3 linked regions of the Homo sapiens genome follow. The protein of the gene in region 3 interacts with the protein of the main gene of each other region in a pairwise test. Each region holds a gene or a part of one and is shown on either strand. Other genes may lie near its edges.

Evidence for each region. Proteins that work in one complex are often made in the same cells at the same time.
Region 1: the proteins of CBY2 (region 3) and C19orf44 interact in binary tests that used the Homo sapiens proteins (3 or more experiments, as listed by UniProt).
Region 2: the proteins of CBY2 (region 3) and CYTH4 interact in binary tests that used the Homo sapiens proteins (3 or more experiments, as listed by UniProt).

What each region holds. Positions count from the first base shown.
Region 1 is NC_000019.10:16,506,324-16,513,393, reverse strand, and holds part of C19orf44 (uncharacterized protein C19orf44), read right to left. Parts: intron 6,694-7,070; coding exon 6,620-6,693; intron 3,896-6,619; coding exon 3,406-3,895; intron 2,313-3,405; coding exon of another isoform or gene 2,227-2,312; exon of another isoform or gene 388-2,226; intron 381-387; coding exon 285-380; intron 1-284.
Region 2 is NC_000022.11:37,278,541-37,285,507, forward strand, and holds the start of CYTH4 (cytohesin-4), read left to right. Parts: upstream 1-3,967; 5' UTR 3,968-4,029; coding exon 4,030-4,048; intron 4,049-6,967. UniProt on the Homo sapiens protein: Promotes guanine-nucleotide exchange on ARF1 and ARF5. Promotes the activation of ARF factors through replacement of GDP with GTP.
Region 3 is NC_000013.11:45,712,294-45,715,103, forward strand, and holds the end of CBY2 (protein chibby homolog 2), read left to right. Parts: intron 1-888; coding exon 889-2,079; 3' UTR 2,080-2,266; downstream 2,267-2,810.

The sequences.
Region 1 (7,070 bases), on a different chromosome or scaffold from region 3:
AACAAAAAAAGTGGCCTTGTTGGGGTGCAGGGCACAGAAGCATCACTCTTCACCCTCTTGTTTTGTGTGACATTGGTGTCTCTTTGCAAGAGACAGAAGGTTCAAGGGCATCCACACCTTTTCTCTCCTCATGGCAGGTGCCTGTGGCTGCAATAATCCCTGCCCAATGGACCCCTGGAAGCCAGCATGCAAGGGGTGCCACACCTCCAGAGTGGGTGTGAATCTGCAGGTGAAATGAGTCCTGTAAAATGTGACAGGAAGGATCCCCCGAGCCGGGCTGTTACCTTCTATTGCATCTGCACTGATAACATGATTGGCGATGGGTGTCGGGTCCACGTAGGCGCCTCCCAGGGCAGGCCCCATGGCTGCCATGCTGGCCACTATCTCGGGGACAAAGAGAGGGGTAAGCAGGCAGGACGCAGAGAAATGACTTTCGGGTCCACAGATACGACCCTGGAATAAACTACGTGACCTTGTTCTTCCCTCTTTCTGAAGGTGATCGCCACTCTTGCATTTTTTTTTTTTTTTTTTGGTTTGAGACAGGGTCTTGCTCTATTGCCCAGTCTGGAGTGCACGGCATGATCACAGCTCACTACAGCCTCCTGGGCTCACGTAATCCTCCCATCTGTCTCCCAAGTAGCTGGGACTACAGGTGCGCCACCACGCCTGGCTAATTTTTAAAATTTTTTGTAGAGACAGGGTCTCCCTATGTTGCCCAGGCTGGTCTTGAACTCCTAGGCTCAAGCAATCCTCCTGCCTCAGCCTCTGAAAGTGCTGAGGTGTAAGCCACCGCACCCGGCCCTTCTTTACTTTTTTTTACCCTCTTCCCCTTTCAAGTATTTCCCAAGGCTGCCTCCATTTTTCTGCTAGGTTTTCTTGGCTCAAGGCACGGGTATCCTAGCTGGGTGCAGCGGTGGCTCCGGCTCACGGTGGCTGCAGTCGAGAGCAGTGGAGGATGTGCTTTCCCAGCCCTTCTTCTAAGGGTCACTGTTGACCTCAGGATGTTGCGTGTTCTCTGGGCTCTGAGGCCAGCGTGTTTATGGCTGCTGTTTTTTCTTTCTCCTTTCCCTGTCAGTCCTAGTCTAGGAAAACAGCCTCGCCAGTGTTTCATGAAAGCATCCCTAAATTGCCAAAAATATGGACAGAAGTGCAGAGAGACACAAACAATTCTGAGCCCAGATCCCAGGTTGAAAATACCATTTAACACCTCCAAGGTGATTTGACTCAGTCCATGTGATTGACTTTCCCTCCTGAGAAACAGACACCACTCACCCTCTCCTGGGGGGCCCGTCAGGCTGATGTTAGGTTAAGCCCCCAAATCAAAACAAATAGATCCAGTGAGAATTACATTGCCTTTTTTTTTTTTTTTTTTTTTTTTTGAGACAGAGTCTCACTCTGTCGCCCAGGCTGGGGTGCTATGGCACGATCTCAGCTCACTGCAACCTCCACCTTCTGGTTTCAAGCGATTCTTGTGCCTCGGCCTCCCGAGTAGCTAGGACTACAGATGCGTGCCACCACACCAGGCTAATTTTTGTATTTTTAGTAGAGACGGGGTTTCACCATATTGGCCAGGCTGGGAACTACATCATTTTTCACATCCAGTCTACCTTGTCAAGAGCCATATGGATGAGAAAAGAGATATTAAAAGGGAATGTTTATTAGCCAGGCGCCTCTAGTCCCAGCTATTGGGGAGGCTGAGGTGGGAGAATCGCTGAAACCCAGGAGGTGGAGGAGGCAGTGGGCCGAGATTGTGCCACCGCACTCCAGCCTGGGCAACAGAGCGAGACCCCATCTCATAAAATAAAATTATATAAAATAAAATAATAACATGGGAATGTTTAAAAGAATGGGGCCTTTCCACCAGCAAGAGCCGAGACTGAAGCTGGGAATGAGAGAAATGCCCGAAGGCCAGGCATGGTGGCTCATGCCTGTAGTCCCAGCACCTTGGGGGGCCAACATGAGCAGGTGGAAGGATCACTTGAGCCCAGGAGTTCAAGACCAGGCTGGGGAACATAGGGAGACCCTGTCTCTACAAAGAACATTTTAAAATTATACAGGGGGCCAGGTGCGGTGGCTCACACCTATAATCCCAGCACTTTGAGAGGCCGAGGCAGGCAGATCACGAGGTCAGGAATTTGAGACCAGCCTGGCCAGCATGGTGAAACCCCATCTCTACTAAAAATACAAAAATTATCTGGGCGTGGTGGCACATACCTGTAATCCCAGCTATTCAGGAGGCTGAGGCAGGAGAATCGCTTGAACCCAGGAGGTGGAGGTTGCAGTAAGCCAAGATCGCACCACTACACTCCAGCCTGGGCAAGAGAGTGAGACTCCATCTCAAAAAAAAAAAAGATACAGGGCCGGGTGCAGTGGCTCACGCCTGTAATCCCAACACTTTGGGAGGCTAAGGCTGACAGATTGCTTGAGCCCACGAGTTTGAGACCAGGCTGGGCAATATGGCAAGACCCTGTCTCTACAAAAAATATAAAAATTAGCCAGGCATGGGGGCGCATGCTTGTAATCCTACTACTCAGGAGGCTGAGGTAGGAGGATCACCTGAGCCTAGGGAGGTTGAGGCTGCAGTGAGCTATGATTGGGTCACTGTACTCCAGCTTGGGCAACATAGCAAGACCCCATCTCTAAAAACAGAGTGAGAGAGAGAGAGAGAAATATCTGGAAAGTCACCCAGGGTGTTCATTCTCCAGGACAAAGGCATCCTGTGCACTGCGGGGTGTGGAATAGCACCCCTGGCCTCCACCCAGCAGATGCCGATAGCATTCCCCACCCTGAGTTGTGACAACTAATAATGTCTCCAGACCTTGCTGGAGTCCCCCCGTGAATCATCCTGTGGGAGGTGCTACCCTAGTCCTTGGTTCTGATCCTTCTGAATGCTTCAGGGCTAGGAAGACATCGGGACACACGAGGGCGGCTGTCCCTCGTCCATGGAAGAGGAAATGGTGAGCCAAGGTCCCTAGGTGACTTTTATTTTTTTTGAGACAGAGTCTCATTCTGTCACCCAGGCTGGAGTGCAGGGGCATCATCTCAGCTCACTGCAACCTCCACCTCCCGGGTTCTTCTCAAGCCTCAGCTTCCTGAGTAGCTGGGATTACAGGAACACACCACCACAGCCAGCTAATTTTTGTATTTTTAGTAGAGATGAGGGTTCCCTGTGTTGGCCAGACTGGTCTTGAACTCCTGACCTCAAGTGATCCTCCCGCCTCGGCCTCCCAAAGTGCTGGGATTACAGGCGTGAGCCACCTTGCTTGGCCAACCCCTCCAGGTGATTAATAACAAGAGCCCAAATCTCAGGAACCTGAGCTCTCCCACGTGTCTCCCAGGATGCTGTAAACCACACGCTGAGCTCCTGTCCCGGCTGCCCCGGCCCCCACGGGCCCCAAGGCTTACCCTTGGTCCACTCGTAGGTGAAGGCAGGATCTGGCGTCTGCACAGCTGTGTCCTTCACAAGCACTCTTGTCACGTGCCTGCCCGACTTTTTCCTAGACTCGGCTGTTTGTGGAAGGTCTGTCTTCACACTTGAAGAGGATTCAGACAAAGCGTCCAGTGTTCTGTCAAGAGACTCCTTGGAATGGGCGGTTGGCTCAGATGCTGTCAGACTTGGAGAGTTTTCAAAATCCTCCGAATAAGCTGAGCTGACTGTGTTCACCATGGGGGCTTCAGATGGTGGCTGCATGCTGGAAGTGCTGTCCTGCTGGATGGCAGAAGCCGAGCTGGCACTGAGATGCTCCGAGACCTCGCTCTCATCCCCCTCTGCAGAGGCGGCCTTTCCCTGTGATGCCCAGCTCCTCGCCTGGGCCTGCCTCGGGGCATCCTGCCCAGTGGACGCCTCGGCTCTGAAGATTTTGCCAGCTGTTTTTTGTCTCTGAGCACTTTCCTCCTAAAATGAAGAATGGCAGAGGTGGCTGGGAAGTGTTTTGGAAATATCAACATGCTAGGAACACTGCACTCCTAGGAGCTGGGGACCTGCAGCACTCCCGCAGACAAGGGGACACACCAGGTCCTCATTAGATGTGGGCACGGAGTATTCTAAACAGAACTGTGGCGTCTTCAGTACGGCATGTCCACGGGGCTGCAGGAATCCTGATGGTGTGACGCATGCTTAGGTGGCACGTGGATGGCATTTAACATTTCATCATGGACTTAAGGACTTTAGGTGGTTGAGGCGGTAGGATCCTTTGAGCTCAGGAGTTCAAGACCTGCCTGGGCAACACAGCAAGACCCTACCTCTATAAGAAAAAAAAAATTAAAAAATTTTCAGCCGGGCACAGTGGCTCATGCCTATAATCCCAGCACTTTGGGAGGCCAAGGCGGGCAGATCACCTGAGGTTGGGAGTTTGAAACCAGCCTGACCAACATGGAGAAACCCCGTCTCTACCAAAAATACAAAATTAGCCAGACATGGTGGCACGTATCTGTAATCCCAGCTACTCAGCAGGCTAAGGCAGGAGAATCACTTGAACCCAGGAGGCAGAGGTTATGGTGAGCTGAGATCACACCATTGCACTCCGGCCTGGGCAACAAGAGCAAAACTCTGTCTCAAAAAAAAAACATTTCATCATGGACTGATGAAATGTTAGGTGGCTGAGGCGGCAGGATCCTTTGAGCTCAGGAGTTCAAGACCTGCCTGGGAGACATAGCAAGACCCTACCTCTGTAAGAAAAAAAATATTTTAAAAATTAAGTTTCATCATGCCTGGGGGCAATGGCTCACACCTGTAATCTCGGCACTTTGAAAGGCCGAGGCAGGAGGATTGCTTGAAGCTGGGAGTTCAAGACCAGCCTGGACAACCCAGCCGGTCCATATCTCTACAAAAAAATAAAAAATTAGCCAGGCATGGGTGCACGCTTGTAGTCTCAGCTACTCAGGAGGCTGGGCAGGATTGCTTGAGCCTAGGACATCGAGGATGAAGTGAGCCATGATCCCCCAACTGCATTCCAGCCTGAGTGAGACCTGTCTCAAAAATAAATAAATTGGGCCAGGCATGGTGGCGCATGCCTGTAATCCCAGCACTTTGAGAGGCCAAGGTGGGTGAATCACCTGAGGTCAGGAGTTGGAGACCAGCCTGGCCAACATGGTGAAACTATCTCTACTAAAAATACAAAAATTAGTGGGGTAGGGTGGCGGGTGCCTGTAATCCCAGCTACTCAGGAGGCTGAGGCACAAGAATTGCTTGAAACCAGGAGGTGGAGGTTGCAGTGAGCTGAGATTGTGCCACTGTAGTCCCAGCCTGGGCGACAGAGCGAGACTGTGTCTCAAAAAAATAATAATTAAGGCCGGGCGTGGTGGCTCACGCCTGTAATCCCAGCACTCTGGGAGGCCGAGGCGGGCGGATCACGAGGTCAGGAGATCGAGACTATCCTGGCTAACACGGTGAAACCCCATCTCTACTAAAAATACAAAAAAAATTATCCGGGCCTGGTGGTGGGCGCCTATAGTCCCAGCTGCTCGGGAGGCTGAGGCAGGAGAATGGTGTGAACCCAGGAGGCGGAGCTTGCAGTGAGCTGAGATCACACCACTGCACTCCAGCCTGGGCAGCAGAGCGAGACTCTGTCTCAAAATAATAATAATAATAATAATAATAATAGGCCAGGCGCAGTGGCTCATGCCTGTAATCCCAGCACTTTGGGGGGCCAAGGCAGGTGGATCACTTGCAGTCAGGAGTTCGAAACCAGCCTGGCCAACATGGTGAAACCCCGTCTCTACTAAAATATACAAAAATTAGCTGGGCATGGTGGCAGGGGACTTAATCCCAGCTACTTGGGAGGCAGAGGCAGGAGAATCGTTTGAACCCGGGAGGTGGAGGTTGCAGTGAGCCGAGATCGAGCCATTGCACTCAAACCTGGGGGATAAGAACAAGACTTCTCTCAAAAAAAAAAAAAAAGTTTAAAATAAAAAATAATAATAATAATAAAATAAAAACAATAAATATTTTAAAATAAAAATAAAATGTCATCACTGTGTATAACCAACACGTGTATCTGACAGTGCCGGTGGCCACCAGGACAAAAATCACAACAGGGAGTGTGACTGGATACGGCTGGTGAAGTGTTGCCTCCGTGCAGATGTTGTCATGGGCGGCTTTACGTGGGATGTGCTTTAATCACCAGCTAACCAAGGTAGCTTCATCCTGTTAGCACCTAAATCAGGGTCTCTCACCTACTGCACTCTTGACATCAGAGGCCACAACATTCTTGGCAGCTGGGGGCCACCCGGTGCATTACACAATATGGAGCAGTGTTCCTGGCCTCCACCCACTCACAATGCCAGTGGCATCTGTCACCCACCCCCTAGTCATGACAGCCAAAATGTCACCAGACATTGCCAATGTCCCCTGGGGGGCAGATTTGAAAACTATAGGCCTAAATGAAACATTACTTGCTTTTCCACATAAGAATCGACATTGGGCCAGGCATGGTCGCTCACACCTGTAATCCCAGCACTTTGGGAGGCTGAATCGGGAGGATTGCTTGAGCCCAGTTTGAGGACGGCCTGGGCAACATAGTGAGACCCTGCCTCAATTTTTAAATTTTTTAAAAATTTAAAAAAAAAAATGTTGAAGCCAAAAACAATCGACCATGAAAAATGACTTTGTTGTACTTACTTCCTGTTCCAAATCGGAGTTCTCACTGACAGCTGGAGCCAGACCGTCAAGCGATAAAATATTTATTCTAAACTCTGTAATTAAAAAATGAGTATAAGCGTTTACATTTACTCTCTTATTTACTCCATAAATTTTTACAAACCTTCCAAATTTCTTTTTTCTTTTCTTTTCTTTTTTTTTTTGAGATAGAGTCTCACTCTGTCACCCAGGCTGGAGTGCAGTGGCACGATCTTGGCTCACCACAACTTCTGCCTCCCAAGTTCAAGTGATTCTCTCACCTCAGCCTCCTGAGTAGCTGGGATTACAGGTGCCTGACACCTCGCCCGGCTAATTTTTCTATTTTTAGTACAGACAAGATTTCACCATTTGGCCAGGCTGGTCTTGAATTCCTGGCCTCAAGTGATTCACCTGCCTCGGCCTCCCAAAGTGCTGGGTTTACAGGTGTGAGCCA
Region 2 (6,967 bases), on a different chromosome or scaffold from region 3:
AGATGCTAGACCCTTCCTATCTCTCCCTCAAAGGAAGTGCAGGGAGTGGGGAGGGCAGGTCGGTGAACTTCTGAAATGTTTAAAGTGACGCTTGTACAAGCTGAGTGTGGGGATCTGAAGTCAGACAGTTCAGGGCTTGAATCTGAACTTTGCTTTCTCCTGGCTGCGTGACCTTGGGCAAGTGATTTAACCTCTCTGAACTCAGTTCCCTCATCTATGAAAGAGGGGTTGTAATAATGTAATTTGTTGAATGGTGGAAAGGGTTAAATGAGATGACAAGCACTTAGCACAGTGTCTGGCACTCCATAGCAGGCACTCCAGAAATAGCAGTGATGGTTTTTTTAGGACCTCCCAGATCTCGTGTTTGGAGACTCTCATTTGTTGTCCCAGAACCAACTGCGGATCCCCTGCCTGGTACACAGGTGGGAACCAGAGCCTGATGTAGCGCAGAAGGACTGATCTCAGGCCAGAAAGTTTTAAGGGGATTCCTTCCCGTTTTCATCCTTCCTCCTACCTGGAATTTAGACATGATAGCTGGAGATCAAGCAGCCACTTTGGACCATGAAGAGAATTTGAGGACAGCAGCCGAAAGTTAGAAGGATCCTGGATCCATGCCCAGGCTGCTACAGGGCAGCCATGTGTTGCCCACTTCAGGTTTCTTTCTTGTAAGAGATCAATAAACCTCTAGTTTCTTTAAACCATTATTATTATTTGGGTTTTCTGTTTCATGTAGGCAAACCTAACCTGAACTGTCTCCATTTTGTAGATGATTTTAAATGATTAAAAATGAGGCTCGGAGGGGAAGGAAGAAGATCACACAGCTCACAAGAGCTGAGTCAGGATTCAAATCCAGTTCTCTGTGACTCCCCTGGGTCCAGCTTCCTGCTCTCCTCATTGCCTGTGCTATTGGTTCCCAGCAAATCTTGCAGCCAAACCTGGACAAGGAGTGACGGAGAAAATGATGAAGTCAGTTCTGCTAAACTCTTTGCTGCTCACAGTGAAAGAGTCCCTCCCTCCCAGGCTGTCTGCATATAAGCCGTTAAACATGACCAGCGTTGTGGGAAAGAGGGAGGGGAGGTGTCATCACAACGGACCTCACAGAGGAGGTGGTATTTGAGGTATGTCTTAGAGAATAAGACAGTAACAATAGCTGAACCACACAACCGTGACCATCCATCAGACAAAAGGGAAGTGTCAGATGCCAAACCGTGGCCTGGTCAAGACACATTTACTGGATCAGCCGCAAGATCAGGCAGCCTTCCCCAAGGCCATCCCAGGTTCAGTGGTTTACTAGGTGGACTCCCAGGACTCAGCTCATGGTCATACTTACGGCTATGATCTATGGCAGTGAAAGGACTCAAAGCAGAATCCGCAAAGGCGCCGTGGCGAAGTCCAGAGGAAACCAGGGGCAGCTTCCAAGAGTCTGCTCCCAAAAGAGTCACACGGGACACGCTCAATTCCTCCAGCAACAAGTCGTGAAAGCACCTGTGAGATGGGATGCTGCCAGGGACGCTAGGCAAATAGGTTAGGCCCAGTAAGCCACTCTCATCAGTTAGGGTGGTGGGAGCCCTCCCCAAATCCAAGCTCCCAGGTGCCAGCCAAGGGTCAACTTTGCAAGCATGACTTTCTAAAGATAGCAGTCTCCGGCCTGCAGTGTGAAGTCTTTCTGCACAGGGAATTATATATACCTTTCTCCATATTTCTAGGGGTTATTTTGTTTGTTTTGTTTTTTCTTTTGTTTTGTTTTTGGAGACGGAGTCTCACTCTGTTGCCAGGCTGGAGTGCAGTGGCGCGATCTCAGCTCACTGCAACCTCCGACTCTCTGGTTCAAGTGATTCTCCCGCTTCAGCCTCCCAAGTAGCTGGCATTATAGGCACCCGCCACCATGCCCAGCTAATTTTTGTATTTTTAGTATAGACGGGGTTTCACCACGTTGGCCAGGATGGTCTTGATCTCCTGACCTTGTGATCCACCCGCCTCGGCCTCCCAAAGTGCTGGGATTACAGGCATGAGCCACTATGCCCAGCCCACATTTCTAGTTTTAAAATGGCCAAGGGCATGGTTTGTGGTGCCTCAGGCCCAAAGCAGTTGAGAAAAATCTAGTTTACCATGGAAATAATTGTAACAAGTTTTCCAGAAAAGAACCATGAGTTATACAAGAACCCAGGTGGAGGCAGGGCAGGGGAGAAGCAGCGGGGTTCAAAAATCCTGAGCACACTAGACGGGGACTTAGTAGGCCTGGCTTCTGGGCCTGAATTGGCACTCACTCAAGTTCCAACTTGGTCAAGTGTTTCCCAGAAATAAGCCTCAGTTTTCTCTCCGAGGAAATGACAGCATTGGATTTCTTCTGTATCAGCAAGCTTTGGCTGCATAACAAAGCATCCCAGAAGTTGGTGGCTTAAACCACAAAAATGTATTATTTCCCACAGTGCTATGGGTCAGCAGTTTGGGTGGGACTCCGCTTGATGGTTCTTCTTCTGGTGTCCCCTGGCCTCACTGATGAGGCAGCAACCAGGGGACAGCCAAGACAGCCCAGCCTATCTCCTTGTGGTCCTCCGTCTTCCAACAGGCTAGCCCAGGCTTGTTCTCATGGTAGCCAGGCAGGGGGCTGAGAGCAAGAGCAGGAGCTGCAAGGCCTTTTAAAGCTCAGCCTCGAACATCACGGCACATCATTTCTGCCACGTGCTATTGGTCAAAGAGATGCCCAAGGCCAGCTCAGCTTCCAAGGAAGGAGAAATGGACTTCGCCCCTTGACAGCAGAAGCGGCGGCATAGTGAAAAGGAGGTGAACTTGTAGCTAGCTTTCACATCGGCCGTGATCTCTTCCATGTTCCCTTCATTCATTCATTCATTCATTCATTTGTTCATTCATTCCACACTTGCACACCCTCTATGTCCCCAGCATTTTACCACACACCAGAACACAAAAGGTAACCTTGCCCTCATGGGGCCTGGAGAGTAATGGGGAAACAGATGAATAACTCTGCATGTGTCCTGAAGTTATAGGGAATTCACATTTAATTTATACCTGTTTCTTTACAGCAAAGCTTTTTGCAGAAAGGATTTGAACCAACCTGCCAGAAAAGGCACAAGGAATAACATGATACATTTTAACCAAAGAAGATAATTAAAATCAAAGGAGAAAGTGTTTATTGAGCACCTACTATGTCCCAAGCATCTCCGACACATCCTCTCACTCCATGGTTTCCATATCCCCGAGTTAGTGTTATTCCCCTTTCAGAGATAAGCAAAGCGAGGCTGACTAGCCCTAGCTGAGAGTCAAACAGCTGAGTCAGGCCCCAAAGTTCACATGACATCATAGAATAGCTGTCGATGAGCTTTGGATTTGACGATGAGTTTCCCAGCAGCCTGGGGGAGAAGGAAAGTGGAACATATTACCCGATTGTTCACTAGACAAGAAAAAGCCAGATATTTCTTTGAAGGGAAGCAAAGCCCTTCCTAGCAGTGAATTCATTTGTCTCTTCTCAAGTGGGAGTTGGAAGAGAGCTTGTGGGGTGGAACACAGGGGGCCCTGCTAGGACTGTCCAAGTTGGGCGCTCCTATGGCATATATGTGAGGAGGCTGCCACGTGAATGCCCATGGTCCCCTGGAAAATGTTCGTCCTCAGTGAACATCGCCCTCGGTGTCTGTGCATGTGTACGTGTGTATGTGCATATGTGTCTGTGTGTTTCTTTCTGTCTCACTGTCTTTCTCTTTTTTATCTGGCCCTCCCCTCACTTCATCTGTTTGTTTGTTTGTTTGTTTGTTTGTTTCCACCTCTGTCCCTCCCTGGCAAAAGTCCCTGCTGCTCAAAACTCTGCCAGTTTTTAGGAAGTGCTGTTTTGTCAAAAGCCTGCACACGAGACCCCCGTGGGCCAGGACTGACTTCCTCCCCACACAGGGCTGGGCGGGGCAAGCAGGAAGGAGCCTGTTACAGTCAAGGTGACGCATCCTTGCCGGGCCAGCCCGAACAGCAGCTGGGTCGGCAAGCGACAGGAGCACGGGTCATCTTTTCCCCAGAGGCGTCGGAATGGACCTGTGCCACCCAGGTAAGCAACTGCCGTCAACCTCTCTGGGCCTCAGGGTGCTCTCTTTTAGAATGGGACAGCAGCCCCTGCCTCACAGGGTCCTAGATAAAGGAATACAGCGCAGGTGGGAAATGCAGCTGCAAGAAGCAAACATTTGTGGGCTCAGCCTGTGTGTCCAGTTGCGTTCTAGGGGCTGGACACACAGCAGTAGCAAAGCAGACGCTGTTTCCCCCTTCATAGGCTTGTGCTCTAGATGAGGAGACCGGCAGTGACTCTAATGTGATTCCATATGTCAGTTGATGGCAGGTAGGATGAAGAACAGTAAAGCAGGGTAAGGAAGACAGGAATGCATGGTGGAAAAGGCCCCAAGAGGAGATGCTGTCTGATGAGGGACCTGAGGAAGATGTCAGCTAAGGGGCTTTCTAAGGAACAAACATTCCAGCCAGAAGGAACAGCCAGTCCAAAGGCTCAGAGGTGGACTCAGAAAAGTGACTTGCGATTAAGATGATGATGGGATGTTGGTGATGGCGATGCTTGTCTGGGTGATACAAGGGCCTTGAGGCCCCTTTTTGGCCCCCGGGGGTTGGGGTGGTCTTTGGGGAGGCTGAGGACGCTGCCTAGAGCCAGGGGAGGGCCAGGAGTGAGCAACAGAGGCTCTGGTTGAAACCCTCCCCAGCTACTAAGACAATGTGTCTGGGGAGAAAGAGGAGAAAGGAGGCTGCAAAGATGGTGAGGAAAAGAACATCAGGGTCGTGTTTTGGGAGGCAAATTGAAGGCCCGGTAGAGGGGCCAAGTTTCTGCACCCTGGATGTCAGCATGCTCCAGAGCTGCAACAGTTCTGGTGAACACGGCTGCTGGAATTCCAGAACCTAAGGGCTCGTGGGAGCTGTCTGCTCCCCAGGTCCAGATGACCTCAGCCTTGTCCAGGAGCACCCTTGCTTCAAACGCACCTAATGTGGAGCAGCCTGGCCCCGCCCACTGGGCATCCCCCTTCCTCCCCACCCCCAGATGGAAGCCTCGGGCCCCAGGGAACCCAGAGAACCACTGATCCATTTCAACAGCCCCCCCAGTGGCAGAAGGGAGAAAAGAGGCCAAGGGAGGAAAACAGCCTCTCTAAGGCAGGAGCAGGACCAAATCCTGTTCCCTGAATCCCTATCCAGGGCTCACTCTGACCCCTGCCTCTCCCATGGGCTTTGGGGGCTCCCAAAATCACAGCTCAGTGAGCACAGCTTGGGGGCACCTGGTTGGCACAGGGAGACCCAGCGAAGGGCAGCACCTGGCTCAGGCCTCTCAGCAGACATGAGGGTGGGATGAGGGGGGGAGGGCACCCACCGAGATGCAACCCCCCTGCCTGTGTGTCCAGCAGGGCGCTTTGTCCTTTCGGGTCCTAACATACTGAGGTTACAGGGATGGCTGTCTCCATGTTGCAGATAAGGAAACTGAGGCTCCCAGAGGTGAACTAGAGACGGGGACTGACTTGCTTGAGGTCACACGGCCAGTCAGCAGCAGAGCAGGGACGAGAACCTGCGGGAGAGAGCCCCAGGTTGGCCGGGGCTATGGAGAGGGCAGGGGAGGGGAGTCTCTGCTTTGCTTCAGCCGGTACTAGGGAGGAAATGGATTAAATGGGGTCAATGGGTTCTCCATCGAGTAGTTGGTCTTTTCATTCATTCACTCTACAAACGACCTTCCAGTGTGCTATGCAGTGCTGGGGACAGCAGTGACCCAGCCATGGGCCTAACCCTGGGGGACAGGTGTTGGTCTGGAATGTTGGGGGTGGGGTGGAGAGGCAGGAGCCACATCCTGCAGGACCCTGACCCAGCTGTGCAAATGGACACAGACCTACAGATGGGAGGAAGCAACTTTTCCCACTGGGGCAGAGGAGATCTGGGAAGACCTCCTTGAGGAGGAGGCCAGAGGGAGGGAGAAAAGGTCATTTCCCTGTTGCCCAGACTGGGTCTTAAATGGGGCTTCTTCATGGCACGGTGACTTCCCCTCTCTGAGTTCTGATTTGTCATCTCTACGTGGGTGCCATCATCCTGGCCTGGCCTGGGGAAGCGGGGATTGGGAGTTAGCCGGACCTCGCTCAGGTTCCAGCTCTGCACCACCCTGCCAGTGGTCATGGTCTCTTCCTTCTATGGGCCTCAGTTTTCTCACCTTTATTATGGACAGGCTGGTGACTCAGGGGCCCCCAGGGCTGCCTCCCCTCCTCTCCTGAGGTGGGCCTGTGTCGGGAAGCAGGTAAGGCGCCCTCCCCCAGGGCCTGCCGGGAAGGTGAGAGGGCCAGACAGCAAAGCCCCAGTGTGGCCAAAGACAAGCACTGTGCTGGTGCAGAGAAGACAGGCAGCGCAGTTAAAAATAGAGCCAGCTCGGCTGGGGCGGTGGGGGGGCGGCGGGGGAGGAAGCCGCACTCCGCAGAGCCTGTGGGGCTTGTGGGGCTGGGGCGGGGAGCAGCTCCACCCACACCCCCTCTGCCCCAGGGTCCCTCCTACTGAGACTTTGAGGGGCCTCTTTATTTAGGGCCCTGAGATGGCATCCTCCTCCTGCCCTGGAAAGGGGAAGTGAGGCCAGCTGTCCTGGAAGCAGGGCTGCAAGCTCAAAGATTTCTAAAAATACGATGGGAAAGAGGAAGGACAAAGAGGAAGTGGGGAGGAGCCGGGGAGATGGGCACATTCACCAGCCTGGGCGCAAGGGCAGCACCAGCCTGTGGGCTTGGGGTGGGGGTTCATGTCACACCTTGTGAGGTTGTGAGAAGCACAGAGATAAGTGAGAAGGAAACGGGGTGTGTGGTGGTGGTGGTGGTGGTGGTAATTTTATTATTTGTGTGTATTATTATTAGTATTTAAAAATTCATCTCCTGGCCAGGCATGGTGGCTCACATCTATAATCCCAGCACTTTGGGAGGCCAAGGCAGGTGGATCACCAGAGGTCAGGAGATCGAGA
Region 3 (2,810 bases):
CCAATTTGAAAATGTGGAAATTAAAGCTCAAATAACTTGCTCAAATTCTTGTTAATTGGTAAGTAGTGAGGCAAAGACTCAAAATATTTGGTTGACTCTAAAATGAATGCCTTTGACCACCATAATATATAACTGTTTCTTATTATTCACGGATTCCATATTTGTGAATTTGCCTACTTGCTAAAATGTGTATCCACCAAATCAATACTTGTAGCACTTTTATGGTAATTCTCAGACATGCACGGAGAGGTGAAAATTTGAGTTGTGTGAAGTTGAGTCCCCAGCCAAGGAGCCTTCTTGTTTCAGCTCTCAGGCTAGAAAATAGTGTCCATTGCGCAGTCTATCTAGTGCCACTTTTTTTGTTTTGCCTTCTTGTGCATTTTGTTGGTGATTTTGCTGTTAAAAATGGCTTCTGTACCATTCCAAGTCAAGTGCTGTCTAGTATTCCCAATCACAAGAAGGCTATGCTGTGCCACATGGAGAAAACACATGTGTTAGAGAAGTTTTGTTTGGGCATGCGTGACAGTGCTGCTGACGTGAATTTGATGTTAATGAATCAACAATACGCACTAAATGAGGTTATGTATTGCTTGGTTGACAAAACTGTGACCACAGGCTCACAGGAACATAGCCCTCTATTTCCTGTAGGAGCAATGGTTCTATATTTGCTAATTCAGTATTGGAACTGACTTCATAGAACAGAACTCACTGGAATGACAAGGATAGGCCACATTTCCTTGTGAGGACCCCAAGAAGCAAAAGCGCCCACTGTGGCCAGGCCAGACAATCAGACGGGGCTTATTTGGGGATGTCCTGGCCCCTTTGTCAGCCAGCCCCAAGTGTGTCAGTCCCATCGTTAACGCTGGGCTTTCCCATTCTCTCCCGCAGAGGGGCACAGCCGAACCCTTCCCGAGGCTCCACAACTTGTACAGCACCCCTCGCTGCGCGCAGCAGGCCGCCCTGCCCCGGCTGAGCCGCAGGATGGCGAGCCAGCACTCCTATCCACTGAACCGCTTCTCCTCCGTGCCTTTAGACCCCATGGAGCGCCCCATGTCCCAGGCCGACCTGGAGCTGGACTACAACCCGCCGCGGGTGCAGCTCAGCGACGAGATGTTCGTGTTCCAGGACGGGCGCTGGGTAAATGAGAACTGCCGCCTGCAGTCTCCCTACTTCTCCCCATCCGCCTCCTTCCACCACAAGCTGCACCACAAGAGGCTGGCCAAGGAGTGCATGCTGCAGGAGGAGAACAAGTCTCTGCGGGAGGAGAACAAGGCCCTGCGCGAGGAGAACCGGATGCTCAGCAAGGAGAACAAGATCCTACAGGTCTTCTGGGAGGAGCACAAGGCCTCGCTGGGCCGAGAGGAGAGCCGGGCCCCCTCGCCACTGCTGCACAAAGACAGCGCGTCCCTGGAGGTGGTGAAGAAGGACCACGTCGCCCTGCAGGTGCCCCGTGGCAAGGAGGACAGCACCCTGCAGCTCCTCCGGGAGGAGAATCGCGCGCTGCAGCAGCTGCTGGAGCAGAAACAGGCCTACTGGGCGCAGGCAGAGGACACGGCCGCCCCTGCCGAGGAAAGCAAGCCCGCCCCCTCACCCCACGAGGAGCCCTGCAGCCCCGGGCTGCTGCAGGACCAGGGCTCCGGCCTCTCCTCCCGCTTCGAGGAGCCCAAAGGGCCTCCGGCCCGGCAGGAGGACTCCAAGGAGCTGCGCGCCCTGCGGAAGATGGTCAGCAACATGTCCGGGCCCTCCGGGGAGGAGGAGGCCAAGGTGGGCCCGGGCCTGCCCGACGGCTGCCAGCCCCTGCAGCTGCTGAGAGAGATGAGGCAGGCGCTGCAGGCCCTGCTCAAGGAGAACCGGCTCCTGCAGGAGGAGAACAGGACCCTGCAGGTGCTACGGGCAGAGCACAGGGGCTTCCAGGAGGAGAACAAGGCCCTGTGGGAGAACAACAAGCTGAAGCTGCAGCAGAAGCTGGTCATTGACACCGTGACCGAGGTCACCGCGCGCATGGAAATGCTCATCGAGGAGCTCTACGCCTTCATGCCGGCCAGGAGCCAGGACCCCAAGAAGCCTAGCAGGGTCTGAGGCCTCGGCCTTGCACCGGGACGCCGAGTTTGGGACACCGAACACTGGGCAAAAGAGAATCCCCTGCCTTCCTTTGTCGTCCTCGCCTTCCCCAGCCAGTTCGTACCTATTGAAAAGCAGCGTTAGCAGCCTTCCTAAACTCAGAGTTTTAATAAAGGTGTGAGGAGGCTGGGGCCAGTTGACACCAGCATGCTGCCTTTTTCTTTCTTTCTTTCTTTCTTTCTTTTAATAAAAGATAGACAATATTTTAGAGCAGTTTTGGGTTCACAGCTAAACTGAGCAGAAAGTACAGGGAGTTCCCATAGACTCCCGTCCCACAAATGCATAATCTCCCGCATTATCACCATCCCTCCAGAGAGGTACACTAGTGACAGTCTTTGAACCTACATTGACACATAATTATTCCAAAGTCCGTAAGTTTGTATTAGGGTTTGCTGCTGGTGTTGTACATTCTGTGGGTTTGATCAAATGCATAGTGACATGTAGCCACCATTGTAGTACCATATAGAGTATTATAGAGTATATGTAGTACCATATAGAGTATTTTCATTGCGCTAAAAATCCTCTGTGCTCTGCCTGTTCATCCCTCCCTCCCCCTCCAGCCTCTGGCCACCACTGATCTTTTTTACAGTCTTCATAGTTTTGCTTTTTTCAGAATGTCATATAGTTGGAATCGCCAAGTGTGGAGCCTTTTCAGGTTGGCTTCTTTCACTTGGATATGCATTTAAGTT